3 separate regions of the Homo sapiens genome follow, and all the other regions are linked to region 3. Evidence: fine-mapped expression QTL. A gene starts in region 3. Each other region holds a variant in brackets. All regions are shown on one strand. Distances are from middle to middle.

Region 1 (9,952 bases), 330 kb before region 3:
TTATTTCCTTTGGGTTGCTTTGGGTTTTATTTTCTCTTCTTTTTCTTGTTTCTTAAGATGGAAAATTAGCTTACTGATTTGAAATCTTTTTCATATAGACATTTGTAGCTATAAATTTTTATCTCAGCACTGATTTACTTCATCCCTTAAGTTCTGCTATATTGTGTTTTCCCTTTTTTAAATCTAAAAGTATATTCTGATTTTTCTGGTGATTTCTTCTTTTATCTCTTGGTTATTTAAGAGTTTGTTGTTTAATTTCCACATATATGTGAATTTCCCAGGTTTCCTTCTGTTATTGACTTCTTTTCTTATTTTTGAGAGACAAGATCTCACTTTATCTCCCAGGCTGGAGTGCAGTGCAGTGATCGCAGCTCACTGCAGCCTTGACCTCCCACCTCAGCCTCCTGAGTAGCTGAGACTACAGGCATGAGCCACCAAGCCTGGCTAAATTTTTAAAAATTTTGTTGTAGAGACAGGGTCCGACTATGTTGCCCAGGCTGTGTTGGAACTCCTGGGCTCAAGTGATCCTGCCACTTTTGCCTCCCAAAGTGCTGGGATTACAAGCATGAGCTACCATACCTGGCCTGTTACTGATTTCTTATTTCACTCCATTATGGCTAAAAAACATAGATTGTATGATTTCTCGTCTTTTATATGTATTGAGAGTTATTTTATTGGCATACCGTATTTTCTGTCCCAGAGTGTTGAAGAATATCTATCCTGCTCTTGTTGGGTGGAGTGTTGTATAGATGCCTGTTGGGTCTGATTGGTTTGTAGTGTTGTATAGACACCTGTTGGGTCAGAGGTTGGTTTGTAGTGTTGTATAGATGCCTGTTGGGTCTGATTGGTTTGTAGTGTTGTATAGATGCCTGTTGGGTCAGAGGTTGGTTTGTAGTGTTGTATAGATGCCTGTTGGGTCTGATTGGTTTGTAGTGTTGTATAGATGCCTGTTGGGTCTGATTGGTTTGTAGAGTTGTATAGATGTGTGTTGGGTCTCATTGGTTTGTAGTGTTGCATAGAAGCCTGTTGGGTCAGAGGTTGGTTTGTAGTGTTGTATAGATGCCTGCTGGGTCTGATTGGTTTGTAGGGTTGTATAGATGCATGTTGGGTCTGATTGGTTTGTAGTGTTATATGGATGCCTGTTGGGTCTGATTGGTTTCTAGTGTTGTATAGATGCCTGTTGGGTCAGAGGTTGGTTTGTAGTGTTGTATAGATGCCTGTTGGGTCAGAGGTTGGTGTGTGTGTTGTATAGATGCCTGTTGGGTCAGAGGTTGGTTTGTAGTGTTGTATAGAAGCCTGTTGGGTCTGATTGGTTTGTAGTGTTGTATAGAAGCCTGTTAGGTCTGATTGGTTTGTAGTCTGATTGTTTATGTCTTCTCTTCCCTTATTGATCTTCTGCCCAGTTATATTGATATTGAATGTGAGGTATTGAATCCTTCAGTTTTGTCAGCTTTTGTTTCATAAATTTTGAAGCTCTGTTAAGTGCATCTGTATTTCTATTTCTTTCTGATGAACAGACCCTTTTATCATTATGACATGTCCTTCTTTGTCTTTAGTGAAAAAAAAATGTCTTTAAGTCCCTTTTGTATGTTATTAGTATAGCCACTTAGCTCTTTTTTGATTATTGTTTGCATGGTATCTTTTTTCACCCTTTAACTTTCATTGTATCTCTGAATCTAAAGTGTGTTTCTTGTAAACAGCATATAGTGGGATCATGTTTCTTATCTGTCCTGCTGGTCTCTGCCGTGAATCTAAAGTGTGTTTCTTGTAAACAGCATATAGTAGGATAGTGTTTCTCATCTGTCTTTCTGGTCTCTGCTCTGAATCAAAAGTGTGTTTCTTGTAGACAGCACATAGTGGGATCATGTTTTTCATCTGTCCTGCTGGTCTCTGCTGTTTGAGAGGGATGTTTAATCCATTTACATTCAGTGTGATTACTGAGAAAGTTGGATTTGTATCTGCCATTTCTAAATTTGTTTACTATATTGTCTTTTTTGTCTTTCTTCCTTTATTTCTCCATTACTTTTTTGTGTTAAATGGACATTTAATTCTCTTGTAACATTGTAATTTCCTTGTCTGTTTTACTGGGTTTTTTTAAAAGTAACTTTCTTAGCAGCTGCTCTGAGTATTACAGTAACAACGTAAAACCAATCAAGTGTTCAGATGAACTTAATATAATGTACAAAAACCTTCACTTCAAGTAGCTTTGTTTCCTCTCAGCTTCTTGGTGCTGTATTTGTCATATAAATGCTACCTTTTAGATTGTAAGTCCGTCAGCAGTCTTGTAATTATTGCTTTATGCAGTTGTCTTTTAAATCACATAGAAGAAGAAAAGATGTACAAACAGAAATGAGTTTCTGCTGTCTCTGTTGCTGGCTTTGCAGTTGTCTTTTTTGGTGCTCTTTGTGTGGATTTGAGTGTGGTGTCTTGGACTTCAGCCTCAAGTATTTCTTGTAGGACAGATCTTCTAGCAATGAATTCTCTTTGTTTTTGTTTATCTGAGAATGTTGTAATTTTTCCTTCTCTTCTGAAGAATAATTGTGCTGGATATGGCTGACTTGGTTGGCCCTCTTTTTCTTTCAGTCCTCTATAGATGTCATTCCACTGCCTCTGGCATCTGTGGTTTCCATGGCGGGAGCACCGCACCATGTCTCAGTCTCTTTTTAGCTTCTGACTGTTTGACTGTGGTGTGTCTAATTGTGGATCTTTCAGTGTGTCCTACCTGCAGTTCTTTGAGCTTCTTGGATATAGAGGTTAATATTTCTTGTAGTCTGATTGTTTACATCTTCTCTTCACTTATTGATCTTCTGCCTAGTTATATTGATATTGAATGTGGGTATTGAATCCTTCGGTTTTGTCAGCTTCATGTTCAGCCAGTGACTGGACAGGGGACCCCTTTAAGTGCTTTGCACCAGTAACTCTCATGGTTCTGCTGACACACAGTTGATGTGTGGTGAGTATGCCTTCAGCGCTCCATTGTGGTTCTGCAAATTTGGGAAATTTTAGGTTGTCGTTTCTCGAAATATTTTATGTCCATGTTCTCTTCCCCCACTTGGACTCCAGCTACGTGTGTTGATGTGGAGCTGGGCACAGCCTTGGAGGCCTCCTTGACTTTCCTTTATTCCGGAATTTTTTCTTCTTCTCAGAATGGGTCATCTCAGTTGACCTATCTTCAAGGTCACAGATGCTTTTGCCAAACAAAACCTGATGTCAAGCTGCTCTAGTGAATTTTTCATTTCAGTTATTGTACTTTTCTACTCCAAACTTCCATTTGGCTCTCTCCTATAATTTCTGTATCTTTACTCATATTCTTTGTTTAGTGAAACATTCTCATACTTTAATTCTGTAGACACAGTTTCCTTTAGTTATTTGAACATATGTGTAGAAGCTGATTTAAAGTACTTGTCTAAGCCGGGCGTGGTGGTGTGCACCTGTAATCCCAGCTACTTGGGAGGCAGAGGCAGGAGAATTGCTTGAACCCGGGAGGCAGAGGTTGCAGTGAGCCAGGATCAAGCCATTGTACTCCAGCCTGGGCCACAGAGCGAGACGCTTTCAAAACTAGATAGATAGATAGATTAGATAGATAGATAGATAGATAGATAGATAGATAGATAGATAGGATAAGATAAGATAGATAGGTGACTTGTCTACTAAGTTCAACATCAGGGCTTATTCAGGGGAAGTTCCTATTGATGACCTTTTTTCCCATGTCAGAGCCAAGGAAATAACATACTCTTTCTTTGTGGTCTCATATATATGTATTTTTTGAAGACTGGACACTTTAATAATGTGCTGTGCAACTCTGGAAATCAGATACCCTCTCCACGAGTTTATTGTTGTTCTGTTGCTGTTACCTTTTGTTTAGTGTGTGTTCTGGACTAATTTGAAGTGTCCACCTCATCAGCTTCATGTTCAGCCAGTGACTGGACAGAGGACCCCTTTAAGTGCTTTGCACCAGTAACTCTCACGGTTCTGCCGACACGCAGTTGATGCATGGTGAGTGTGCCTTCAGCGCTCCATCGCGGTTCTGCTGACACGCAGTTGATATGTGGTCAGTGCTCCAGCAGGCAGCTGCCAACTGTGCCTTTGCCTTCACTTCTTACTTGCACACAGCCACAAAGCCAGCCAGAGGTGAGGGCCAGGGCAGCTCAGGTTCCTCTCGGGCACACACACAGCTCTGTGCCTGTGTGGGCACAGCCTTCCATGCCTCCAGGAGTGTGGCAGAGCTTCTCAGCGGCCACTGTGGGCATCTCGTTCCTCAGATCTTCCTTTCATGAGTTATGTAGTTGAATTATCAATCTTTCTTGGCTTCTAAGTTTTGTGTTCTACTTAGAATGCTCTTCCCCCTTAAAGATTATATTTGAAATGTTTTCCATGTTTTCTTCTAGTACTTTTATGGGTTTCATTTTCATATTGAAATCATTGATCTACTTCTAGTTTTTGATACAAAATGTGAGCCAGGAAACCCAGTTTTTAAATTTCAAATAGCTGTCCAGGTGTCCCTGCACCTCTTATGCATGAGCCCTCGCTTTGTGCCAATGTGGAGTGCCCGCCTGCTCACACGTGCCCATGTGGAGTGCCCGCCTGCTCATGTGCCCATGTGGAGTGCCCGCCTGCTCACACATGTCGATGCGGAGTGCCCGCCTGCTCACACATGCCCATGTGGAGTGCCCGCCTGCTCACACGTGCCCATGTGGAGTGCCCGCCTGCTCACACACGTGTCCATGTGGAGTGCCCACCTGCTCATGTGCCCATGTGGAGTGCCCACCTGCTCACATGTGCCGATGTGGAGTGCCACCTGCTCACACACGTGCCCATGTGGAGTGCCCGCCTGCTCACGTGCCCATGTGGAGTGCCCGCCTGCTCACACGTGCCGATGCGGAGTGCCCGCCTGCTCACACGTGCCCATGCGGAGTGCCCGCCTGCTCACACGTGCCCATGCGGAGTGCCCGCCTGCTCACACGTGCCCATGCGGAGTGCCCGCCTGCTCACACGTGCCGACGTGGAGTGCCCGCCTGCTCACACGTGCCCATGTGGAGTGCCCGCCTGCTCACACGTGCCAACGTGGAGTGCCCGCCTGATCACACGTGCCCATGTGGAGTGCTCGCCTGCTCACACGTGCCGATGTGGAGTGCCTGCCTGCTCACACGTGCCCATGTGGAGTGTTCGCCTGCTCACACGTGCCGATGCGGAGTGCCCGCCTGCTCACACGTGCCGATGCGGAGTGCCCGCCTGCTCACACGTGCCCATGTGGAGTGCCCGCCTGCTCACGTGCCGATGTGGAGTGCCCGCCTGCTCACACGTGCCCATGTGGAGTGCCCGCCTGCTCACGTGCCGATGTGGGGTGCCCGCCTGCTCACATGTGCCGATGTGGAGTGCCCGCCTGCTCACACGTGCCCATGTGGAGTGCCCGCCTGCTCACACGTGCCGACGTGGAGTGCCCGCCTGCTCACGTGCCCATATGGAGTGCCCGCCTGCTCACACGTGCCATTGTGGAGTGCCCGCCTGCTCACACACATGCCGATGTGGAGTGCCCGCCTGCTCACACGTGCCCATGTGGAGTGCCCGCCTGCTCACACGTGCCCATGTGGAGTGCCCGCCTGCTCACACACGTGCCCATGTGGAGTGCCCGCCTGCTCACACGTGCCCATGTGGAGTGCCTGCCTGCTCACACACGTGCCCATGTGGAGTGCCCGCCTGCTCACACAAAGCCCTGGCATGGTGGTTCTGTAGGTTTCCTGTCCTGCCGGCCGAGTCAGACGCTGTTACCGTACATTCTACTCATGGTGGCTTTTTAATACGTTTTTATGTCAAGGATCCCTTTTATATTTCTCTGCACCTCGAGATAACGTAGGAATATTAGGGATGAGATGGAAGAGGAGAGGGTGTTTTTGTAAAATTGAATTCAGGACTGATTTGTTAGCCTGGTGCTTTTCGTATCAGACCTTTTAATGAATTTTCATGGATGCTGATTAAAAGACAAACCTGTGACTCAGTGTTTGTGACCAAGTGAGGGGCCCTGTGGGGTGGGGGTGCTGGGCCGGCCCTTCTGGCTGGTGGGGTGAGGGGTGGGGCCTGTGCACCTGGGAGCAGCTCCAGCACTGCGGGCTCAGGGCACTGTCAGTGACTTGGCACTAAGGGGGTGCTGGGGGTGGGCCCTCCTCAGATCCCCTCAGCAAACCCCTTCCACCCACACTTGCCACAAAGTGGTTTGGGTCCCCATGAGCCAGGCAGATGGCGGGGGGAGGAGCCTGGGGGGGTCTGGCCTGCA[G/C]ATGCACGTAGGGGCTACTGGTACGGCTCACAGTGGGAGGGGGCCCGTGCCAGCTGGTCCAGCATGCTGCTGCCCTCATCCAGGGCAGACTGGCTGAGGTTGGCCCGGAGAGCAGCAGGGGGTGAGTGCGAGGAGTGACCAAGGGAGGACTGGTGGGCATGGGTCACAGCCCCAGCGCTGGGGTGGATGGGCCACCATGGAAAGTGGTGTCAGGGTTAGCAACACAGAACCAGAAACTCCAAATAAGAGTGGCTCGTAGACAGAAGGGTTTGTGTCCTATTGAATCAGGGTCCAAGGGTAGGCGCCCCCAAGCACCTTCCAGTTCCTGGCTCAGTATCAGAGCACGTGGCCTCCAACCCCAAGGCTACCTCATGGCCCAAGGTGGCTGCTGGGGCTCCAGCCATCACCAGGTCTGCAGAAGGAAGGAGGAGGGCTTTGCCTCCCCTCTGAGCTGATTCCCATAAGGAGCCTTCTCAGTCCCCTACCCCCACACACACTGTTCATGTCGACTTGGCCAGAACCTAGTCACAGGCAGCACCCAGCTGCCTGCTGCCCCAGAGGCAGGACATGTGGAGCTCAGCTCATCTGAGATGAGCGCTCAGCCACAGCCTCCCAGGGAAAGAGAGAAGGCGTCTGCACCAGCAGAGCTGTCTCCAAAGGGGACCACACTGCAGGGCAGTCGGGAGGAGGTGGGACATGGACATCCCCAGGTTGTCACCCATGAGCAAGGTCCCCCCCCAGTGGATGAGATGCCCCCACCCCACGGGCCTCTGTGGATGAAAAGGTGACCTTGGGATGGGGGAGGGGCAACAGTGCCAGAGGCAGGTGGGGGCCACAGTGGTCGTGAGGGCAGGGATGGGGCTCAGCCCTGCCTCCTCCCTCAGGTGCAGTCCTGCAGCCCTGCCTGGCTGCCCACCCCTGCCCCTTCCTCCCTGTGCTCACCTCCCTCTGCTGCTGAGCTATTCGTCCAGCCTCACCTCCCCGCCTCCCAGCTGACGCTGTGCACAGCTGGCCAGAAGAGACCAGGAGTGAGGGGGCACTCAGTCACCAGGGAAGAGATGGGGGACCCAGGTGGCCATCACAAGCAGGACACTGGGTGTGGGGAGGCCTGAGCACCGCAGGGAGGTCCTAGGGATGGGGGGACAACGTGGCGGTGGCCAGGGGGGATGTTGGATGCAGGGTGTTTTCGGGCATCTGGATGTGGGTAGATCAGGTTGGATGCAGGGTGTTTTCGGGCATCTGGATGTGGGTAGATCAGGTTGGATGCCGGGTGTTTTCGGGCATCTGGATGTGGGTAGATCAGGTTGGATGCCGGGTGTTTTCGGGCATCTGGATGTGGGTAGATCAGGTTGGATGCCGGGTGCTTTCGGGCATCTGGATGTGGGTAGATCAGGTTGGATGCCGGGTGTTTTCGGGCATCTGGATGTGGGTAGATCAGGTTGGATGCCGGGTGTTTTCGGGCATCTGGATGTGGGTAGATCAGGTTGGATGCAGGGTGTTTTCGGGCATCTGGATGTGGGTAGATCAGGTTGGATGCAGGGTGTTTTCGGGCATCTGGATGTGGGTAGATCAGGTTGGATGCCGGGTGTTTTCGGGCATCTGGATGTGGGTAGATCAGGTTGGATGCAGGGTGTTTTCGGGCATCTGGATGTGGGTAGATCAGGTTGGATGCCGGGTGTTTTCGGGCATCTGGATGTGAGTAGATCAGGTTGGATACAGGGTGTTTTCGGGCATCTGGATGTGGGTAGATCAGGTTGGATGCAGGGTGTTTTCGGGCATCTGGATGTGGGTAGATCAGGTTGGATGCAGGGTGTTTTCGGGCATCTGGATGTGGGTAGATCAGGTTGGATGCCGGGTGTTTTCGGGCATCTGGATGTGGGTAGATCAGGTTGGATGCCGGGTGTTTTCGGGCATCTGGATGTGGGTAGATCAGGTTGGATGCCGGGTGTTTTCGGGCATCTGGATGTGGGTAGATCAGGTTGGATGCAGGGTGTTTTCGGGCATCTGGATGTGAGTAGATCAGGTTGGATGCCGGGTGTTTTCGGGCATCTGGATGTGGGTAGATCAGGTTGGATGCAGGGTGTTTTCGGGCATCTGGATGTGAGTAGATCAGGTTGGATGCCGGGTGTTTTCGGGCATCTGGATGTGGGTAGATCAGGTTGGATGCCGGGTGTTTTCGGGCATCTGGATGTGGGTAGATCAGGTTGGATGCCGGGTGTTTTCGGGCATCTGGATGTGGGTAGATCAGGTTGGATGCAGGGTGTTTTCGGGCATCTGGATGTGAGTAGATCAGGTTGGATGCCGGGTGTTTTCGGGCATCTGGATGTGGGTAGATCAGGTTGGATGCAGGGTGTTTTCGGGCATCTGGATATGGGTAGATTGGGTTGGATGTGGGGAGGGTGCTTGGTGCCTGGGGTTTGCTCTGAGGCTGTGGGGCTGGCTTGGTCTGGGAGGAGCTTGGTCTGGCTTTGTGGTGCCTGGAGGGCCCCTGGCCCCCGGGGGGACATCGCAGGGCAAGGACAGGGCGAGGCACACCATTACCAGGACACTGCGGGGCAAGGACAGGGAGAAGCACACCATTGCCAGGACATCGCGGGGCAAGGACAGGGCCAGGCACACCATTGCCATGGCAGGAAGGCAAGTGGAGGATGAGGGTTCCCCAAGCCCAGGCTGCCCAGGACTCGGAGCAGGAGGAACCAGCCACCAAGTGAGCAGGGGGCTGAGGAGGCCACGCCAGGATGGGGCAGCCAAGGGCCCGAGTGACGGCGAGAGCCTCCTTAGGGGTGGAGAAGTGAGGAGGAAGTGTAGACAGCAGGTGTAGACGGCTCTTTCGATACTTTGGCTGGAGGCTGGGAGGAAAGGGGGAGAGCTGGAGGCCACACGGGGTCCAGGGAGGGTTATGCCTAAGCCTGGAGACACTGGACGCATCTGAAGCCCAGCAGGGGCTGTCTCCCCTGGCAGGACGCAGGCAGGTGACAAGATCCTATGGCTGGAAGATGGGCTTGGACCTGTGGCCAACCCAGGGTGGGGTTATGGAGAGGGTACACCAGACACCTTAGGGTGTAGGAGCTGGGTGCCCACCAAGGTCGAGGCCCTGGGCTTCGGAAAAGACCAGGCGGGCTGAGGGCGACTTTCTTCAGAAGCCCAGCTGCCTGGGGCTGGGGGTGTGGGCAGGTGGGCATGGGTGGGGAGCACAGGGGGGCTCGGCAGGGGCAGCCGGTGGCCCCAATCCATCCTCACCTTTCACTAGGAGTGAGATGCCTGGGGGGAGACTGCACTTCCCAGCCTCCCTTGGCTAAGAGAGGGCCCGTGACCCAGCTCTGGCCAATGGGACATAAGCAGCTGTGTTGTGTGGGCTTCCGGGAAAGCTCCTTAAAAGAGAGGGGTGTTGCTGGCCACTCCCTTTCTTCCTGTTTGCAGCCGGGGGTGAGGATGTGGTGGCTGGAGCCTCAGTTTCCATTGGGTTCTGTGAGGCTGAGGCCCGTCCAGGCCTGATGCAGCACAGAGAGCCAGGAGCTGGGTCTCCAAGGACTCAGTGAAGGTCTCAAAACTGCCCAGGGCTGCCACGGCCAGAATTCCCTCACAAAGAGAAAGTAAACAGTCTCCTTTCAACTCTCTTCATTCAGGTTTTCTCTTACACGCAGCCAAACCCAGGCCTGACCCACACAGCAATGGACCACA
Region 2 (9,952 bases), 25 kb after region 3:
TCACCCTAGGCTCTAGGGTGTTGGGCGCCGCCTCTTCAGGGACCTCTGGCCCAGGCTCCAGTTCCCTGCGGATCTGATGTGGAGGAAACAGCTGTTTCCTGGGCTTTGCATCCGGCCTAGAAGATCCTGGGTGGAGGGACCCATCACCCTCCGAGGCTCACACCCACTGCCCACCTCTCCTCCTGGCGCTCGAGTCCCTTGCCTCATTCCTTGGGCTGTCTCTGGCACCCATCGTTTCGGTTGCCTCCTCATCCTGAACGTTTGCTTTTCTTTTCTCAAGAGGAAGTTCAGAAGCAGAAGGAACTTTCCAAAGCTGAAATCCAGAAAGTTCTAAAAGAAAAAGACCAACTTACCACAGATCTGAACTCCATGGAGAAGTCCTTCTCCGACCTCTTCAAGCGTTTTGAGAAACAGAAAGAGGTGATCGAGGGCTACCGCAAGGTATGTCTCCGCCACCCTGGTGTCCTCACCTCGGAGGCTGATGGACTCATGGTCCAAGCCAGCGGGGCTACAAGCTGCTGTCTTTGCACCTTGGTCCTTGGCCAAGCCTCCCCTTGCCACGGGGGCATGGGATGACCTGTGAACGAGACAGGGTGCAGGAGTCACAGCATAGCTGGTTTGCGAGGCAGCTGAGGGCGGCAGGAGGCAGAGTGAGCAGGGAGGCCATCTGAGCCGTCCGCTGTTGTGTGACAGACGACTCGGCTATGATCAGGCATCTGTGAGATTTGAGACAGCGCTGGTGCACCGGGGCCTGGGGCACCTCGGAAAGGTGTCTGGGCTGTCCGAGCGCTTGGGTCCCAAGGGTTGGGGACCCAGGGCATGCAGTATCCAAGGCGGGAGGCCCACTGAAAGGTGGTCACGGCTGTGCAAGGCCACCCTGGTGTCCTCCTGGCCACGGGACTCTGAGCGCCCCCCACCTTCTGTGCTGGGCAAGGCCCACATGCTTGCTGGAAGGAGGGATGTCTGGGCCATCCATCTGCCCAGAGCAGGCCTGGAAGGTGCCTGCGAGGCCGCCAGAGGGTTCTGCCCACAGCAGCAATGTTGGAGCGGAGGTGCTCAACGCCTCCTGTGGAGGAGCTGGACCTGCAGGTGCAGCTGGAAGAGGGGCTGTCACTGTTGGTGCAAGGGGGTTGGGGACACCAGATGGGTCCCCTGGGAGTCAGACTAAACTGGAAAAGCGGCCCTTGCAGGGCCTGCTGAGCCACACCTCATCTGAGTCCTGAAGTCAGGTGGGTGTCAGTGGCTGGGGCCCAGCTGCCTAACAGAAGCAAGCCTGAATACTCTAGGGAAGAAGGTATCTTATGCTTTAAATTGCTGCTGCAGTTTTAAATTAGTGTCTGGCACAGAATAACCAAGTGTGAAAGGAACAGGAAACATGAGTGAAAATCAGACCCGTTATTAGAGTGAGGCATGGTGATGTACACCTGTGGTCCCAGCTACTAGGGAGGCTGAGGTGGGAGGATCATTTGAGCCCGGGAGGTCGAAGCTGCAGTGAGCCATGATTGTATCACTGCACCCCCAGCCTGGGCAATAGACCAAGACCCCCATCTCTAAAATTAAAAAACAAAAACAAAAACTGTTGATAGACCCACAGGAGCCCCAGACGCTGGAGTTGGCACCGGCAGGTGGTGCCTCAGGTCTGCAGGGAGCAGATGGGAAGGGCCCTGTGGCAGCAGAGTGCCCACCGGCAGCAGAGTACAGCAGTCTGGCCCAGCACAGACGCTTGGAGAGGCAGGACTCTTCACACGGTGCTGCTGGCTTGAGGACACAGCGGCTTTGCTGACCTTCCCTCAGGTTGGGCTGTGGTGTGAGCAGCTGCCTTGGCCTCGCCTCTCCCCGGGGCAGGCCTGTGCCTCAGCTCCCACTGGCCACCTCCCTACTTCCTCATGGAGGCTCCTTTGCACATCTAATCCCATCTTGGACGACCCAGTGCAGACTTTAAAGTAATTGTCTTCTGTATTCAGAAGAGTATTGCTTCAATAGAGACCTTGAAACTAGAAAAGAATCCCCTTCGGGAGACCGAGACGGGTGGATCACTTGAGGTCAGGAGTTCGAGACCAGCCTGGGTTACATGATGAAACTCCGTCTCCTAAAAATACAAAAATTAGCTGGGCAGGGTGGCATTTGCCTGTAGTCCCAGCTACTCAGGAGGCTGAGGTAGGAGAATCACTTGAACCCAGGAAGTAGAGGTTGCAGTGAGCCAAGATCGTGCCACTGCACTCCAGCCTGGGCGACAGAGTGAGACTCCATCTCAAAAAAAAAAAATACAAAAATTAGTTAGGCATGGTGGTGTGCACCTATAGTCCCAGCTACTCAGGAAACTGAGACAGAAAATCATTTGAACCTGGGAGACAGAGGTTGCAGTGAGCCGATATGGCACCATTGCACTCCAGCCTGGGCGACAGAGCGAGACTCTCTCAGAAAACAAAAAATACAGAAAAACTAGGCCGGCTTATGCCTGTAATCCCAGCACTTTGGGAGGCCAAGGCGGGAGGATCATGAGGTCAGGAGTTCAAGACCATTCTGGCCAACATGGTGAAACCCTTTCTGTACTAAAAATACAAAAATTAGCTGGGCATGGTGGCAGGCACCTGTAGTCCCAGCTACTTGGGAGGCTGAGGCAGGAGAATCAATCAGGAGGTGGAGGTTGCAATGAGCCAAGATCGCGCCATCACACTATGGCCTGGCGATAGAGCGAGACTCCGTCTCAAAAAAAAAAAAAAAAAAGCCTGGGCACAGTGGCTCACGCCTGTAATCCCAGCACTTTGGGAGGCCGAGGCGGGTGGATCACGAGATCAGGAGTTTGAGACCAGCCTGACCAACATGGTGAAACCCTGTCTCTTCTAAAGATACAAAAATTAGCCGGGCATGGTGGCACGCACCTGTAGTCCCAGCTACTTGTGAGGCTGAGGCAGGAGAATCGCTTGAATCCGGGAGGCGGAGGTTGCAGTGAGCCGAGATCATGCCACTTCACTCCAGCCTGAGTGACAGAGTGAGTCTCCGTCTAAAAAAAAAAAACAGAAACTAGAAAAGAACCAAATGGAAATTTCTAACAGGTACACAGTTAACAACATTAACAATTCAAAGGGTACAGGTCAGATGAGGGAAGCAGAGGCTGAGTTGGGAACCAGTGTGTGGACGGCAGCCCCCAGAGCCAGAGGGAGAGACGCCGCTGTGGCGGGAGGCTTGACCTGTGCACACGTGAGAGCTTCCGGATGCCGCCTCCCGGACAGACGCTGTTGGGAATTTTCCACAGCAGAGAAACACAGTGCTGTGGGTTTAAGGGAGGCGTGACCTCCGCAGGACATCAGGGGCTGCATGCTGGGTAGGGGCTCAGGGAGAGGCTGCAGTGCTGAGGGTGCTTCTGGGATACAGGGCTGCGACAGAGGAGTGAGGATGGCTGGGCTGTGAGGCCGCTGGGGGCACTGCAGGAAGAAGGCAGGTAGGCTGAGCCTTCCCAAGCAGAGGCCACTCGGGGACCCAGGAACCCCTCAGTTAGGGCTTCTCAGTCACTGAGCGGAAGGTGCCCCCAGAGGGGGCAGCAGCCTGTGAGGAGCAGGCGTGTCTGGGTAACCATGTGGCTCCTGCTGGCCTCCCCTGCCTGTCCCCAAAGCACAGGGCTCAGCTCCAGAGGGAGACGGGCTGGGCTGTCAGTGGTCCCAGGTGCATCCCACTTTCCAGCAGCACTTGGTGCCAGCAGAGGCTGCAGGTGTGGCAGGAGGGGGCCCAGCCGTGAGGGCACCAGGTTCAGGCCCGGCATCTCAGGGTGGAGAGCCAGGGCTGTCCTGAACCTCCAGAGGGGGTGAGCTGGGAACTTGTGTGAAGGGGCTTTTTCCAAAAGGAAAACGGGAGCTACTGGCTCACGGCTGATGCCCCAGACAGCCTCGAGGATCTGCAGGTCCCCAGACACCAAGCCTGGGTGCTCTCCAGCAGACGGCGTGGTACCCACAGCTAATGCCTGCCCCTTCCTAGAACGAAGAGTCACTGAAGAAGTGCGTGGAGGATTACCTGGCAAGGATCACCCAGGAGGGCCAGAGGTACCAAGCCCTGAAGGCCCACGCGGAGGAGAAGCTGCAGCTGTGAGTGCTGGGCGAGGCCCCACCCTGGAGGGAGAATCTGAGCACCTGGGCCCCAGCTCAGCCTCTGCCCCGCCCCTACCCCTCCAGGGCAAACGAGGAGATCGCCCAGGTCCGGAGCAAGGCCCAGGCGGAAGCGTTGGCCCTCCAGGCCAGCCTGAGGAAGGAGCAGATGCGCATCCAGTCGCTGGAGAAGACAGTGGAGCAGAAGGTGGGTGCGGGAAGCCCAGCTCAAGGGGCCGTCTGGCAGCACCTTCTAGAAGGCCCTTGGGCCTGCTGCTCCCTCCAAGCAGGGAGAAGCCCCGCAACTCATCTTCCTCCTCCAGACTAAAGAGAACGAGGAGCTGACCAGGATCTGCGACGACCTCATCTCCAAGATGGAGAAGATCTGACCTCCACGGAGCCGCTGTCCCCGCCCCCCTGCTCCCGTCTGTCTGTCCTGTCTGATTCTCTTAGGTGTCATGTTCTTTTTTCTGTCTTGTCTTCAACTTTTTTAAAAACTAGATTGCTTTGAAAACATGACTCAATAAAAGTTTCCTTTCAATTTAAACACTGAAGCCGCTCTGGTCTTGATGAAGCAAAGGTTTCCCAGCTCTAGCCTGAGGCTGAGCCGACCCGCAGGTGCCCTCCCTTCCCCTCAGAGCTGGCCACTTGGTCCCTGCCTACCCCAGGCTCAGGCCACCCTGCCGAGGGGCAGGGACAGCCAGTGGATAGAGGAGGCTCAGGCCTGCCCAGTCTGCCCCGGCCACCTCGGGTTGGCTACATGGTCCTGGCCTCAGGTACACACATCAAAGTCCAAATGGACTCGTTTTTTTGTTTGTTTTTTTGTTTTTTGTTTTTTTTGAGACAGTCTCTCACCCACGCTGGAGTGCAGTGGCGTGAACTCGGCTCACTGTAAGCTCCGCCTCCCAGGTTCACGCCATTCTCCTGCTTCAGCCTCCCGAGTAGCTGGAACTACAGGCGCCCGCCACCACGCCCGGCTAATTTTTTGTATTTTTAGTAGAGACGGGGAAGTTTTCATATAAAACAAAAACTGTGAACAGCCAGGCATGCATGCCGGTGGCTCTGATTCTGGTGCCGACCTGGCGAGCCTGCAGCCCCAGCTAATTGAGCGCTCACCTGGGTGTGGGTGTGGAGGGAGGCCCCCTGCAGGTGCAGCTGCTCAGCTCCTGTCGTCCTCGTCCTTGGGGGCGTGGAGACTTCAGAGCAAAACAGGCTTCCCTGAGGAAGTTCTGTCTCCACACGGCAGGGCTTCCTCCCCGACCCTAACCCCATCTCCAGCAGTCCCGTCCTGCGGATCTCAAACTCAGACAGGCACACTGGAACCCAAGGCAGTTCCAGGAGCCCTTCTGGTCAGGCAGAGGCTTGGCCCAGCTGGGGCATCCCGGGA[A/AC]CCTGGGTACCGAGCTGAGAGATGCTGGTCACTGGGTTCAGCCATGGCACCTAGGACCCCAGCACCAGCCAGAGGGCCAGGGCCTCCTGAGGGGCCAGGCAAGACCAAGGGTTGACGCTGTAACCTGTTTCCAGGGGTCGGTGCTGCTGCTGTGCCCAGATCACGCCGTCCAGAAAAGCCGTTTTCTCCCATCAGTGAAGAGTGGGGCTCCCCACATAGGGAGGGACCCAGGCCGAGATCTGGCCGCAGTCACCTGGCCCCAGTAGTGTCTGAGCCTGGGGGTTGCAGTCCCAGGACCTGCTTCCAAGGCTCTGCGAGTCTGCCCCTTGGCCTGGTGAGCAGCACTGCAGTACTGACCTCGGGTGGGCGCAACAACACCCCCAGCCGCCGCCAGGGGTCGCTTGCCGCCATGGGCCATGCAGGGACCGGACCAGGTGGGTGACACCCTGAAGGGGCGGGGCACGGGTGCCAAGAAGCCGCATGGACCGCCAGGGAGGCTGAGGGGCGGGCAGGGGCTTCAGCCTGGGTGGCCAGTGGGGTGTCCCCAAGGGCATGAGGGTGCATTTGTTCTTAGCACGTTTGGAGGAGGGGGCCTGGCACAGGGATGGACGGCCACAGCGGGCCATGGCCAGTCACGGCTGGGGCAGGGACTGGGCCAGCCTCAGGGGGGCCTGGGGGCCACTCCCTCCCCCTCCACAGCCCACCTGTGCTCCTGCGGCACCTCCTGACTGGCTTCCCAGGACCATCGCGCCCCTCCCTCCCGTGGGCAGCAACCCCCATCTCAGCCCCGAGCCTGGGTAACAATAGGGTGTAATCCCTGGCTGAGGGGCCTCTGAGAGCCTTCCGTGGCCCACTTCACAGACGAGAAACCGAGGCCCACAGACCAGTGGCCATTGGCCGGGGGAGACGGGCCAAGCACAGGGTGTGGGCCCCCTCTCCTGCTTGGGGTTGAGGATATGGGGGAGAAGAAGGGCCCTCGAGCCTCCAGAGCTCACCAGCTGCCCTATGGGCAGCACGGCCCGCCTCGGCCTCCCCGCTGCCCACAGGCATGTCCGGCCGCAGGACTCCCACCTCTCTTTGCCGGGTCAGCTCTGCTCTGACAAGGTCTCAGGACACAAGGCGGCTGCCAGGTCCTCCTCCTCACTCAGCCCTGCCGGTCTGGCCTTCTGGCTCCTCTGACAGCTGCCCAGGGCCCTGTCCCCTGCTGGGGCCTCTCTGAGCCAAGCCGGGAGCCTGCCCGGAGAAGGCCGTGCAGGGCGGCTGAACGTGTCAGGGCACCTGGCCGGGCCTGGGGCCGCGCCGAGGACACCGGCCACCAGGCAGCGTCCTGGGCCGGGAGCCTCTCTCCCAGGACAAAGGGGCCTTGTGTGGCTGAATGGGTGTTTATCCTGGAGCCTGAGTTAACTCAGGGCTGCGAGGCCGGGCGGGGGCCCTGGCACTGGCCTGCCTGGTAAACATGACCTGAGCTGGGCACGCAGCCGTGGCCTGGACTTCCGCAGCCCCGGACCCCCTGCACATCCACGCAGTCGCCTTGTGGGGGGCTCAAGGAAACAGGAGCTGTCCTGGGGGCTGCCTCCGTGGGAGTCCTCATACACAGTCATGGAGGCAGCGCTCGGCTCTGCCCTTCCCACAGCTCAGGGCAGGGCTCAGAAACACCCCCCCGACGTGCCCCATTGGAAGGAGGGGTGAGGGTTAGACGAGGTCGTGAGGGTGAGGCCCTGGTCTGCTGGGATTAGTGTCCTTGCGGGAAGGCAGCAGGCCGGGAGAGCACTTTGGAGGAACTGACCCGCCAGCACCCTGATGGCGGACTTGGCGCCTCCAGAACCCAGAGAAACACGTGTCTGTGGTGCAAGCCATCTGGTCCCAGGCAGGATGAGACCCCGCCGTCCGAGGGGCTGTCCAGCCTGGTGCCCACCCACTGCCCAGCTCCCCCTGCAGCCAATATCCAAATCCCGAGGGGAGTGCAGGGCTCAGCCCACATGGAGAAGCTAGGTCTGTGGGGCACCCCCACCCCTCTAAGGCCACCTAGGAGTGGAACCTGCAGCTGCCTCCCTGGGCTGGTCAAGACCCTTTCAACAGGGCCGGTGGGGCTGCCCCTCCAAGCTCACTCCCATGCCCCCATGCTCTCTCCAGGGGCCGCCAGCCACCAGGCTGGATGGAAGAGGGGGTGGGGGCGAGGGAGATAGGCCAGGACAAGCTGACCACAGCCCGAGCGTTCCCTGCCAGGCACCCCTCTGCAGCCCCCACCCTGCCCTACCCAGCCTGAGCCCCGGGAGAGAGTTCACCCAGCCTGCAGGCAGACCCAGATCACCCTCCCATGGACTCAGGAGCTGTCCCCAGCCCAGGCTGAACCCCAGACCCCTTTCGGTCCCCAAGGTCCATGCCAGTGAGGGTCGCTGCAAGCCCACGTGGTTGCCGGAGGTCCCTCCTCCAGCCCATCACTCCACTTTCTGGGAAGGACCCCCGGAGGCCTGGGGACTAAGCCCCGGCGCCGCGCCGGACTGCCCTGGTGGGCTGAGCGCACATCCCTTGTCTCTCTTAGGGAGCTCTGTGAGGGGCAGGACCGGGCCAGCAGCCGCTCAGGAAGCTGGAGCACGTGAGGGAAAAGCCCTGTCCCCACAGGGCTGAGGCTGGACGAGGTCCAAGGAGGGGCTTCTGCCCGAGCCCAGGCCTTCCTTGGGGTGTGCTCCAGTAGCAGGTGCGCGTGCCACCTGTGCCGTGGGTTGGAGGGGTGGAACGTGTACGTCCTGGCTGCCCCCGAGCTCTGGGGACCCCGAACTCCTGGGGCTTCTGCCTGAGCCTTTGGACCCCAACAGCCTGCAGGGGGCGCCATTGGGCCACCGGAGCCCCTTCTGCAGACCCGGCGCGACCGCACTCCTGCCAGGCTGTTCCTACCGCCTGGCCACAGGCCTCCAGGAGGGGCCCCCACCCTGGGGCGACGAGGAGCCACCTGGGCCCGCACCAGGCCTCCCCACAGGGCCTCCCCACCTGCCCCCTCCCCACTGCTCTCCCTCCCCACCGCTCTCCCTCCCCACCGCACCCCCTCCCCACCACGCCCCCTCCCCACCGTGCCCCCTCCCCACCCAACGTGCCCCCTCCCCATCACGCCCCCTCCCCACCTGTCCCCCCACCACGACCCCTCCCCACCTGTTCCCTCCCCCTGCCCCCTCCCCACCACGAACCCTCCCCACCTGTCCCCTCCTCACCTGTCCCCTCCCCACCTCCCCCCTCCCCACTGCGCCCCCTCCCCAATGCACCCCCTCCCCAACACGCCCCCTCCCCACTGCCCCCCCTCCCCAAGGCACCCCCTCCCCAACACGCCCCCTCCCCACTGTGCCCCCTCCCCACCATGCCCCCTCCCCATCTGCCCCCTCCTCACCTGCCTCCTCAGCATAGCCCCCCCCACCTCCCCCTTCCCCACTATGCCCCCTCCTCACCACCCCCTCCCCACCAGCCCCTCACTGCGACTTTGCCTCCCCTCTGTTCCCTGGACCCTGCACACTCACCAGACCCCTGGAGGTTTGTGGAGGGCAGGGCTGGGGACTGGGAGGTTTCAGGCCATGCAGGGCTGGAGGCAGCACACCAGGCACCCTCGCTAGCTGAGGGTCTGGCCTAGCCTGATAGGGGGACTGCAGGACAGGGGGGCCCTGGCAAGGCCCAATCCCTCCCTCCCTACCCAACCCTGCCCAGCTGGGTTCTGGGAACACACCCTGTAACTGGGTGGCTGGGGATATGGCGCTCTACAGCCTGAACCACCAGTGGTACTCACTGGGTCCTCCAACTCTGCAATTCTGCAGGCATGGACCAGACTCCAAGAAACAGCCCCTCGAACGCGTCTGCCCCAGCCCGGTTCCAAACACCAGGCTGAGGCTGCACAGTTTGCAAGTGTGTCAAATGAATGAAGGAACAACTGTGCAGGCTCCAGGAACCCCCACCCCACGGTCCCCGCCCCCAGTCCCCGCCTCCCTTCCACTCAGGCCCCTCCCTCCAGGCCAGCAGGGGTGAGGTGAGGGCTTAGAGCCCCTGCAGACATCAGGGTGGGCGGGGCCCCTGCCCTGTGTCTCCTCTGTCCCTCGATGTCCATTCGCACCCGTCTCCCCAAACCCCACTGACACGGACGGCCCCACCTGGCTGAGCTCACAGGAGCTCTGGGGCCCACTCTGCAGAGAGAGGAGGGGGCGGGGGGATGCACTTATGTTTGCTTCTGAGGGACAGTGGGCAGAGGAGGGCTGTTTGTGAGTGAGACACTCAGGCCCCGGGCCTCTGGACCCTCAAAGAAAGGGTTCCTGTGTGGGCTGGGGGCTGCCTCTGCTGATAAGTGGTGGCCCGGCCACTTGGTGTCCAAAGGCCCCATGTCCGTCCACACTTAGAGACTGGGGATGTGGGAGGCTGTTCCGGCAGAGCCACGGTGTGGACACCATCCCAAGGGGGCGTCTGCAGGGGCGCACCTGTATGGGCAGAGCCGGGGCTGCTCTGAGCCCAAGGG
Region 3 (9,952 bases):
GTTTGTCTTTATAAAACTAAGTAACTTATTTTGTAGTAAAAACAACCCCAACCCACTGCCCCTCTTTGGCAGCCCTTGAAACTCAGTTCAAAGCTAGGCCTGGCTCCCGGCCATGGCCCCTGCTGCCTTCACCTGCTGAGCGCTCTAGGAAGCCTCCCAAATCCCAAGTGTCAGGCCCCCGGAGTCCATCACCTCTGCCTCAAACAGCCAAGCCCAGGGGCTTTGGGGCCGCAGGTATGAAGGCCCCTCCAGTAGCCACACCTGTGTCAGGGCTGTGCCCTGGGGCCTGGCCAACATCCCCCCTCCCCTTGAACCATCAGGAACTGGGCAAGACGCCCACCAGAGGCTTGACCACAGGGGGCGTGCATCCCCTTCTGAGCCTGGGAGACCCTAGGGGAGTGGGTAGCCTGGGCTGGACCCCTGGTGGGCTTGTGTTCTGGATGTCGCTATGGCACTTTGGTCCTCAACTCAAACCCCCACCCCTACCCAGGAGTCTGAGACCTCGGCCTTCCCTGGACTTGTTGGGCAGAAAAAGGCACCAAGGACAGGATGAGAAACCCGGAGGGGCAGCCCCACAAATGAGGGCGCTCTGACCTGTCCTCCCATTGCCACCCCACCCAGGAACAGCCCCTCAACTGGTCACAGCCACCAGGAAGCCCCAGGACTGCTCCCACACCACAGCAGTGCCCTCTTCTCCATCCCACCCTCAGGACCTACCCAGGGTCCTCCAGGCAGCCAGGGGCCAGCTCCAGGACAGGGCAGGAGAATGCGGTCCAGGTCTGGCACGTAACTGAGGGTGGGTATGCTCCAGAGAAGTAAGGCAAATGGCCCAGATGACGACCACCTGGGGTAGACCCAGGGTCTCCAGGGAATGGCTCGGGGGCAGACGCTGTGTCTGTGTGTGCAGGATCTGCCCCCACCAGCAGGAAAGGGGCAGGAGGGAGGCAAAGAGGAGGTGCCCAGGACTTGTACCCTGGCTGCCAAGCAGGGTGGGGTGTTTTCATGAGGATTGCTTTTAACCAAAAGTCCTCAGCCTTCTGCAGACCCAGGGCAGAGGCGAGTTGCTCTACATCATGTGCTTTAAGTAGAGCCCTTTGCCAGCCAGGAGGCCCAGCCACCCCCTTCCCTGCCCTGTGGCTTTGGGGGGAGACACAGAGTCACCTCAAGGCCCCAGCCCACTCAGCGCACGGTGCACACATCCAGGATGCAGAAGCGTGCGCGGCAGGTGGGGCAGGGCACGCGGCTGGCCAGCCAGGTGTCAGGGCGCAGGGGGTCCTGGCGGCTGGCGAACCACTTGCCCATGCAGGTGAGGCACCACATGGGGCGGCAGTAACACTGCTGGCACTCGCCTGTGGCTGCCTCCTGGCAGGTCTTCACCAGCTTCACGCTGGCACGTGTCTGCATGCAGCCTATGCAGGCCTCCAGCTCCTGCGGGCAGGTGGAGCGTCACCAGGAGCCCAGGCAGACACCCGTGGGCACCCACCCATCCACCCGGCCCTGGCCCAGGCCCCCCACCTGGCTGCTGGGCACTGAGTAGGCCGGGTTGACCTCTACCAGGGAGGCAAATGTCTCCAGGAACAGGTCGCCCAGGCTCTGGTGGATGACCACATGGGCTGCCCTGCGGATGGGTGCCCGGAGCTTCTCGCAGAGCTCCCCGTACTCAGTGGAGTTCAGCCTGCAGGGAGGAGAGCTGCTGGGCCCCTCTGCAGGGCAAAGGGAGCGGAAGATGGAGGCTACACCCCAAGGAGTGACAGGGCAGCTGTCGCACCAGGACCAACCAGGAGAGATGGCCCTAAGGCCAGAGCCCACGGACCCAGTGCCAGACAGCCCAGCCTGGGCACGGGACGGACCTAGGAGCAAGGCAGCTGTCCAGCCTGAGGGCTGCACTGTCCTGAGTGCTCCCCAAGAATCTGGGGGAGGTGGCTCCAGGGAGTGGAAGGGGAGGCCAAGAGTGCAGGGGGACCCGAGGGAGGGCTATGCGGGAGGGCTCAGTGACTGGTGTCTTGTGGACACCTTGCCTGGTGTCACACAAGCCCAGGAGTGTTGGAGTCCACACCAGCTACACCCAGCACCTCCCAGGGGTCGTGGCACCAGAGCCTGGCTCTGGCCTGCCATGTGCCCTCCGCAGCCCCACAGGCACCACACTCTTACCAGATGTCAAAGGCCTGCACAGCAGGGTTGGTGCTGGCCACACGGATGGTGAGGAGCTGCACGGGCAAGTTCGAGTCTGGCGAGAGCTCATGCTGCCGAGACTCCGTCACAGTCAGGTGCACGTCCTGCTGCTGGGCCACGTGCACTCGGTAGGTGGTTACCTTCATCACCCACGTGTCTGTCACAATCACACGGGCACCTGGTGCACCGGTGGCAAACTTGTCAATCCGCCGGAACTCAGTGTTGACAGAGGAGGCAACAGCCTGCCAGCCAGACTGTGGGAGGGCGTAGAGGGCCAGGGTGCGCGCCAGTGGGTGGCAGGCCCACCGGTCACGGGACCAGTAGTAGATCAGGATGCAGGCGATGGAGGGGAGGGTCACGGCCAGCAGCAGGAAGAGCCGCCAGGCCTCAGGGGCCTGGCTGAGGGCGTGGAGCCGCTTTTCTGAAGCCGCAAGGCACATGCCCACATAGTAGCCTGCAAAGGACAGGGTGAGCCTCAGGGGAAAGTGAGTGGCAGGCCGCTGTCCACCCCCCGACAGCCCTGGACCTGGCCCTCTGCCCGGGTTCCAGGGTCAGCTCCCAGGGTAATTGGGCTTTACCCACTCTGCACTTCCCCAGCCGGCCACTCTCTCCCTGCCTGTGGCAAAGGCAGGATATATTAGCGGAAAAGGTTTTTAATTTGCTGCTTTAGTTTCACACAATACGTAAGTGTTGAAAAAACTACAAAAGCCTAGAAAGGGAAAAATAAACACAATCAGGTGTCACCTCAGGCAGAGCTGACCCCTGGCCTGCCAGGGCAGCTGCCTGGACAGGATCTCAGTCTCTCAATCTCACCCGCTCTGAGGAGGCTGATCAAATGTGGTGCATCCCAGAGCTGAAAAGTTATGTGCGAGAAAGGAAGCAAGTCTCAAAGAATGATGGGACATGTCCAGAGGACACGGAGCCAGCTTCAGGGCCCTGCTGGCCAGATCGAGGACAATTTGAAGGTCCAAATAAGCCATGGAGATGGTGAGGAGTTGCACCAGCAGGTTCCAGTTGGCAAAAAGTAATAGTCCACATTTGGAGTTGGCCCAGTCACTGCATTTCAAGGTAACATGACATATAACAATAGGTAACTAGGGGCCGGGTGCAGTGGCTCACACCTGTAATCCCAGCACTTTGGGAAGCCGAGGCGGACGGATCACGAGGTCAGATCGAGACCATCCTGGCTAACACGGTGAAACCCCATCTCCACTAAAAAATACAAAAAATTAGCCGGGCGTGGTGGCGGGCGCCTGTAGTCCCAGCTACTCAGGAGGCCGAAGTTGCAGTGAGCCGAGATCATGCCACTGCACTCCAGCCTGGGTGACAGAGCGAGGCTCCGTCTCAAAAAGTAAAAATAAAAATAAAACAGGTAACTAATACCTAATAAAGCTTGAAAACTTTCAAACTAAGTTAAAAATAAAAAGAGCTTGACATCCGACTGTGAGGCCAGCTGTGCTGTCTGCTCCAGGTGTGGCTGCCACAATTCACTTGTGGTCCCTCATAGGCCTCTGGGGAGGGTGCAGCTGGAAGGGCTACAGAAACCCACCCAGTAGCCCTAGAAAGTGGCCTGGTCAGGGCCCCAGCCCCACTCAGCCCCATCCATCTCTCAAGTGGGCCCCCAGCCCACCCTCTCCATGAGGCAGGCCTGGGCGCCTCCACCCGACACCTGCCTCCAGTTCTTCTGGGCCCAGGCAGCTGCATCCTCAAACCAGGATGTGGAGGGTCACCCCTCTTGTATCCCCAGAGTGGCAAACCTGGCCAGCCACTGGCCATCTGTCCTCCCAGGGCTGCGTCTGCCCCCGTGTCCTCCAGAGGTACCCCCTTGAAATCCCCCTCCAGCCACTGCACACCCCACCTCCCACCTGTCCGTCATCCAATCAGCTGAGAGAGGGACCTTCCAGAGCCCCAGCTAGCACCTGGGGCCCAGCCCAGCACCCCCCTGGACAACTCTGAGCGTCCCACCTGCACTGCACAGAGGCCCTCCCCAGCCTCTGCCCCTGTGGCGCCCCCAAACTGGAACTGCCTCCAAATCCGCCTGTTCTCTCCACACCCACCTTCCAAGGCCTAGTGCAGTGCCACCCTCCACACAGCCCCTCCGACCCCTTCCGTTGGACTCAATCAACAGTTGCCTTCTCCTGGCCACTGCCCCCAACCACGACAAGCAAGGGCTGCTTGGCCTTGCAACCCCCAGGCACGTGACGGTTCAGGACTTGGTGGGCCGGAGCATCCCTTGCCCAAGGTTCTGAACTTGGGTTCCCGTCACCTGCAAGTCAGTGCCGGCGGCGCCCCTAAGCGCGCTCAGCCCACGCCGCGGTCCCTCTGGATGAGGACCGGCGCCTCTCCCCAGCTGCGCCCAGGCGCTTTCGGGGCCTCGGGGAGCTGGCGGAGGCCTCCTCCTGACCTCCCAGCAAGCCCTGCGCAGGAGAGGATGCGGCCGGCCGGCCCGAGCAGCCTCACCGAGCGGCAGCAGCGAGTGGCACAACAGCGTGGCGGCCGTGCGGCGCAAGTGGAAGGGCACGAAGGCGGCGTCCTCGCTGCCCAGCCAGCCCGACAGCAGGTTCTGCACCGTGAGCCCCGCCGCGTGGAACTCGTTGGGCGTGAACACGAAGCACACGGCGAACACCAGATAGGCGAGAGTGAAGGTCACCTCGGGGCTGTCCATCGCGCAGCCGCCGGGAAGCTGTCGAGCTAGGCCCCCGCCCCGGCGCGCGGACGAGGCCGCAGCGCCCAGTCCCGGACCTGTCGGTTGCGGCGGCCGCCGCCCGGCCGCCCGCGGGGCACTCTAGGACATGGAGTCCCGCCGCCCGGCCGCCCGCGGGGCACTCTAGGACATGGAGTCCCGCCGCCCGGCCGCCCGCGGGGCACTCTAGGACATGGAGTCCCGCCGCCCGGCCGCCCGCGGGGCACTCTAGGGCATGGAGTCCCGCCGCTCGGCCGCTCGCGGGGCGCTCTGGGAGATGCAGTCCCCGTGCGGGTGCGGCCTCTCTTCTCGGCCGGCCCTGGAGGCGGCACCGCACCTGTGCATTGAGCACAGGTGGGGAAACTTAGGCCTGAGCGAGGCCCTGGCCATGAAGCCCCGCCCAGTAGCGTCAGTTGCGGAACTCGAAATTCATGGGGCGACTGCGAGCCCGGGGTCTCAGCTTCAGACACCCTGGCGTGCCCTCCACTCCGGAAACGGAACCGTCGGCGCCCGAGCGGGGGGTGGGGGGGGAGGGAGGGCGGAGCCGGCGAGGCACAGCTTCCCATTGGACGCCCGCCCTCCTGCGGTCCTGCCCCCGGCCGCGCGCTGATTGGCCGCGCGAAGGCAACCGTCGGCGTTTGAAACTCCGGCGCGCCGGCGGCCATCAAGGGCTAGAAGCGCGACGGCGGTAGCAGCTAGGCTTGGCCCCCGGCGTGGAGCAGACGCGGACCCCTCCTTCCTGGCGGCGGCGGCGCGGGCTCAGAGCCCGGCAACGGGCGGGCGGGCAGGTAGGAGAGCGGCTACACGGCGCGGGGAGGCTGGGGTCCTGGGGGCGCGAGGCCGTCCCGCCCCGCCCCGCCCTCGGCCCTCGCCCTCCCGCCCCGGCCGCCGCTTTCCCCGGGAAGCGTCCCCCACGGCTCCTCCTGGGGCCGCCGCCAGAACCTGTACCGCGCCCTGTCATGGGACCCGGCCCTAGACCGACCGCCGGGCTGGGCCCCCTGGATGGTGGCCAGGGGCGGCTAGAGCTGGGCCAAGACCGACGGCGGAGCGGGCGCCCCGAGGTGCTTTGCTCTCCTCGACCCTCTCCTGTCTCTCGGTCGCCCACCTTGGCTCTTTGTTGGCTCCCAGCACGCGGACCCTCCTGTTGTTCTTTGGTCCCTTCCGGCCTCCGTCCTGGGGCCAACTCCATCTAGGCCGCCTGCGGCGGACACCTGGGCCCCTACCGCTTCCCCGCACCTGCTGCGCCGCTCCACCTTCCCCCCGCACCGCATCCCTCTTGTGCACCAGAGTAGCACCAAAGCACCAGCCTGGGGCCGGTCCCTTCTCTGCCCAGAGCCCCTCCCGGGCCTCCATAGTCAGTAAAGGCCCCTCCTGACTAAGGCTGGGTCTGCTGCTCTCCCGAGCTCCTCCAGGCCGCCAGAAGGCTTCCTCCGAGTCACTTTCTCCCTGAGTTCGAGGCTTGCGGGTCCCCCAGCGATCCAGCACCCCTTCCCCTGCCCTGTACCCAGTTATTCAGGGCGAAAACCTAAGCGTCGTCCGTAAGTCCCATATGTGCCAGTGGCCAGGCCCGGGTCTGGTCTGGCATCTACTCCTTGGGCTCCAGAAGCCTGTGGTTTCCCTGCTTCCCTTCTGCTCTTAACCTCCCCACCCACACACAGCACCACAGTGGGCTTCTCAAGCTGCAGCACCGACCTGCCGGGGCTGCCCCCTCTCTCTTCTCCAGGACCCTCCCCAACTTTGCTCTTCTTCAAATCAAAGCCTCCCCAGGTCCCCCTCCACCACCAGGTGCCTGTGGGGTTCCTGCCCTGGTCGACACTCGGTTCTCTCTGGCAGCCTTTTTCCCTACGTCATTCCCTAGACTGGGAACGCTGTAGACAGAAAGGGTGGCAAGTGTGTGGGTGACCGGCGTGAGGACCTGGGCAGCCCTGGAACCTGGGACTGACTGGAGGCTCTGATGTGGAAGTTCCTTGGCACCTGTTGCTCAGCTCTGGGCTTCCCTTGTTTGCGCATCGTCTCCCAGCTCCTCCTCTGGGCCTTCACCCTCTCAGCCTGGTCTTGTCCCGCTGCCTAGCCCGGTGGGAGAGAGCAGACCAGAGCCGCTGTCCTGCTTTTCTGCCCTCTACTGCCCGGTCCTGCCTCACGTCACACGCAGAGGCCTGTGGGGAGACCAGGGCTTCCTCTGGCTCATCCGGGTTTCTTATTGGCCCGGGCTTTTCCGTCTCTTGACTTCTGCTTGATATAGTAATACAGCAGTAGAGATTATGCAGGCTTGGGTTTTCTTTCTCACCATCTCAGCCTGAAGGCCCTTTAGCTCTTGGTCCCAGGAAGCAGCAGTGCTGCCCATGGCTCCCCCTGCCAGGCTGGAGAGTGAGTCTCTGAAGCAAGATGGGGACTCAGTCTGAGGCTTTCTCTGCCAAGAGACACGTGTGGGAGGTGTGAGTTCCAGAGCAATGAGCACACCTGTGTGGGAAGTGGTCGTGCCCCTTGCAGCAGCTGTCACGTCTGTGTCTGGACAATGTGGTAGTGTTGCCCTCACACTGACACAAACATGTTCTGCTTTTCCAGAATGAGTCTGCAGGTCTTAAACGACAAAAATGTCAGCAATGAAAAAAATACAGAAAATTGCGACTTCCTGTTTTCGCCACCAGAAGTTACCGGAAGATCGTCTGTTCTTCGTGTGTCACAGAAAGAAAATGTGCCACCCAAGAACCTGGCCAAAGCTATGAAGGTAAGTGTGACCTGTACAGTGTGTGGCTGGCCAGGTTGCCCTAGGGCCTGCTTTCTTGGTGACCTCTGAGCTGCAGGACACTGCTGGTGTGGCTGTAACAGCTTGAACTAATGAATAGGTGCTCTCCTCCTCACTCCGCAACAGGTGACTTTTCAGACACCTCTGCGGGATCCACAGACGCACAGGATTCTAAGTCCTAGCATGGCCAGCAAACTTGAGGCTCCTTTCACTCAGGATGACACCCTTGGACTGGAAAACTCACACCCGGTCTGGACACAGAAAGAGAAGTAAGTGTTGGTGCTGCTGGACATGCTGGAGCTTCACCCTCTCTGTCCGATGGTTCTTGCAGGAAAGTGCTGTCTTGTTCTATCAGGCCTTGGCTGGATTTTTTGTTTGTTTGTTTGAGATGGAGTCTCGCTCTGTTGCCCACGCTGGAGTGCAGTGGCGCGATGTCCGCTCACTGCAAGCTCCGCCCCCCAGGTTCATGCCATTCTCCTGCCTCAGCCTTCCAAGTAGCTGGGACTACAGGCGCCTGCCACCACGCCCGGCTAATTTTTTTGTATTTTTAGTAAAGAAGGGGTTTCACCGTGTTAGCCAGGATGGTCTTGATCTCCTCCTGACCTCATGATGCGCCCGCCTTGGCCTCACAAAGTGCTGGGATTACAGGTGTGAGCCACCACGCCCGGCCGGCCTTGGCTGGATTTCTCCTGAAATCTGCACTGAGTGTATGCAGCATATGGCCAGTTCACTAACAGAAAAGTCGATCATCAGATACTTGGATAACTTCATACTTCACTTTTTTTTTTTTTTTTTTTTTTTTTTCTGGAGACAGAGTCTGGCTCTGTCACCCAGGCTGGAGTGCAGTGGCTCGATTTCGGCTCACTGCAAACTCCACCTCCCAGGTTCATGCCATTCTCCTGCCTCAGCCTCCCGAGTAGCTGGGGCTACAGGCGCCCGCCGCCACCACTCCCGGCTAATTTTTTAGCCGACCTGATTCTTAACTGCAAGTGGATGGCGAGGCGGTGTCTGTCTTTGCCTAGAAAGGGAGGATCCTGGTGGCAGCTCTTTACTCTGCGGCTGAACTAATCTGTCTGGGCACCCAGGAACACCTCATCTGCATCCAGGGTGGGAAGGGACCCCAGAGGCATGATTTTCTGTTGGTTTTTTGCTGATGTAACTGTTGTTGCTGTTGTTTTGAGACAGAGTTTCGCTCTGTCACCCAGGCTGGAGTGCCGTGGTGCCATCACAGCTCACTGCAGCCTCAACCTCCTGGGCTCAAGCAGTCCTCCACCTTGGCCTCCTTAGTAGCTGGGACTACAACTGTGAGCCACCATGCCCGGCCAATTTTTTTTTTTTTTTTTTTTTTACACGGAGTTTCATTCTTGTTGCTCAGGCTGGAGTGCAATGGTGCGATCTTAACTCACCACAACCTCCGCCTCCCAGGTTCAAACGATTCTCCTGCCTCAGCCTCCGAGTAGCTGGGATTACAGGCATGCGCCACCACACCTGGCTAATTTTGTGTATTTTTAGTAAATATGGGGTTTATCCGTGTTGGTCAGGCTGGTCTTGAACTCCCGACCTCAGGTGATCTGCCGGCCTCGGCCTCCCAAAGTGCTGGGATTACAGGCATGAGCCACCACGCCCGGCTGGCCCAAAACTTTTAAGCAGATTTTAGATGTGCAGAGAAAAGCATAAGGAACAGAATACCACTGATGCTTCTCACCCCCTGAGATAAAATGTCACCAGTAAGTGCAGGCAGCATTTCCTACATCCTTCTCTGGGCCCTGGGTCCGTCTCCCCTCTACCCCTCCAGCCTGAATTTGCAGTTCTTCCCATGTCTGCTTGCTACTTTTCAACTTTGTTTTTTGCCCCTTTTGAAATTTGGTCAAACGAAGCGAGAATGAATCAAACATTGGTTTACAACGACCCCAAGAAGGAAGGGAGACCCAGCAGCAGAGAAGTCGCCTCCCAGCTGCCATGGGTGTGATCCGTCCCAGAGCCACAGATCCCCTGCCTCTCCCCTATGCCTCCAGGATCACCCAGCAGCCTCCATAGGGCAGAGGGTGTAGAGGAGCTGGGAGGGGCTTGAGAGGTTGGCCCTGAGGGGCTCCAGCCAGAGTGACTCTGAGCTTGTGGCTTGGACTCGTGGCTGTCATCTCCTTTCTGGAACTCTGCTGAGGCCCAGGTGGTGGTCACTGTGGTGCTCCCACGTCAGTGGGATGAGACCAAGAGCAGCCGCTGCGTGCAGCTGCCCACGTGTCATTCAGAGGACAGCCGAGTGGCCGCCTGGGAAGGCAGTGCCGCCCCAAGGTGGCAGCTGGGCAGCAGAGGAGTTGTGAGCAGTCTGACAGGTCCCTCACCCTCAGTTT

Direction of the effects. Alleles are on the strand shown, and positions count from the first base shown. SD is a standard deviation of normalised expression in the study named. Not every link is listed here.
As copies of A replace AC in region 2, the expression in whole blood of the gene that starts at base 5,521 in region 3 goes up (moderate effect, 0.46 SD a copy in Lepik 2017).

Evidence for each region. PIP is the estimated chance that this variant, and not a neighbour inherited with it, causes the effect.
Region 1: its variant is the best candidate, but not a certain one, in a credible set for the expression of TACC3 in monocytes after R848 (Quach 2016, PIP 0.67).
Region 2: its variant is the best candidate, but not a certain one, in a credible set for the expression of TACC3 in whole blood (Lepik 2017, PIP 0.77).

The regions. Positions count from the first base shown.
Region 1 is chr4:1,389,999-1,399,950 of GRCh38, forward strand. It overlaps a transcript of UVSSA not described here. Among named protein-coding and RNA genes, the nearest start is that of NKX1-1, 11 kb to the right of the region's middle. RefSeq lists enhancers at 4,439-5,638, 5,239-5,979. The variant G/C (reference allele first, on the strand shown) is at 6,272.
Region 2 is chr4:1,740,546-1,750,497 of GRCh38, forward strand. It overlaps TACC3 (transforming acidic coiled-coil containing protein 3), which reads left to right. Exons shown (of 16, transcript NM_006342.3): 13 at 281-441; 14 at 3,973-4,079; 15 at 4,167-4,287; 16 at 4,403-4,626. The coding sequence ends at 4,468. LOC112268460 (a long non-coding RNA gene) reads right to left here and starts at 281. Exons shown (of 2, transcript XR_002959774.2): 1 at 175-281; 2 at 1-73. RefSeq lists a silencer at 8,277-8,476. The variant A/AC (reference allele first, on the strand shown) is at 5,467.
Region 3 is chr4:1,716,001-1,725,952 of GRCh38, forward strand. It overlaps TACC3 (transforming acidic coiled-coil containing protein 3), which reads left to right and starts at 5,521. Exons shown (of 16, transcript NM_006342.3): 1 at 5,521-5,643; 2 at 7,421-7,583; 3 at 7,728-7,870. The coding sequence starts at 7,422. It overlaps TMEM129 (transmembrane protein 129, E3 ubiquitin ligase), which reads right to left and starts at 5,323. Exons shown (of 4, transcript NM_001127266.2): 1 at 4,633-5,323; 2 at 2,152-2,626; 3 at 1,516-1,675; 4 at 1-1,428. The coding sequence starts at 4,837. The coding sequence ends at 1,180. RefSeq lists enhancers at 3,454-3,533, 4,174-4,273, 5,356-6,351 and silencers at 4,864-4,913, 4,924-5,733.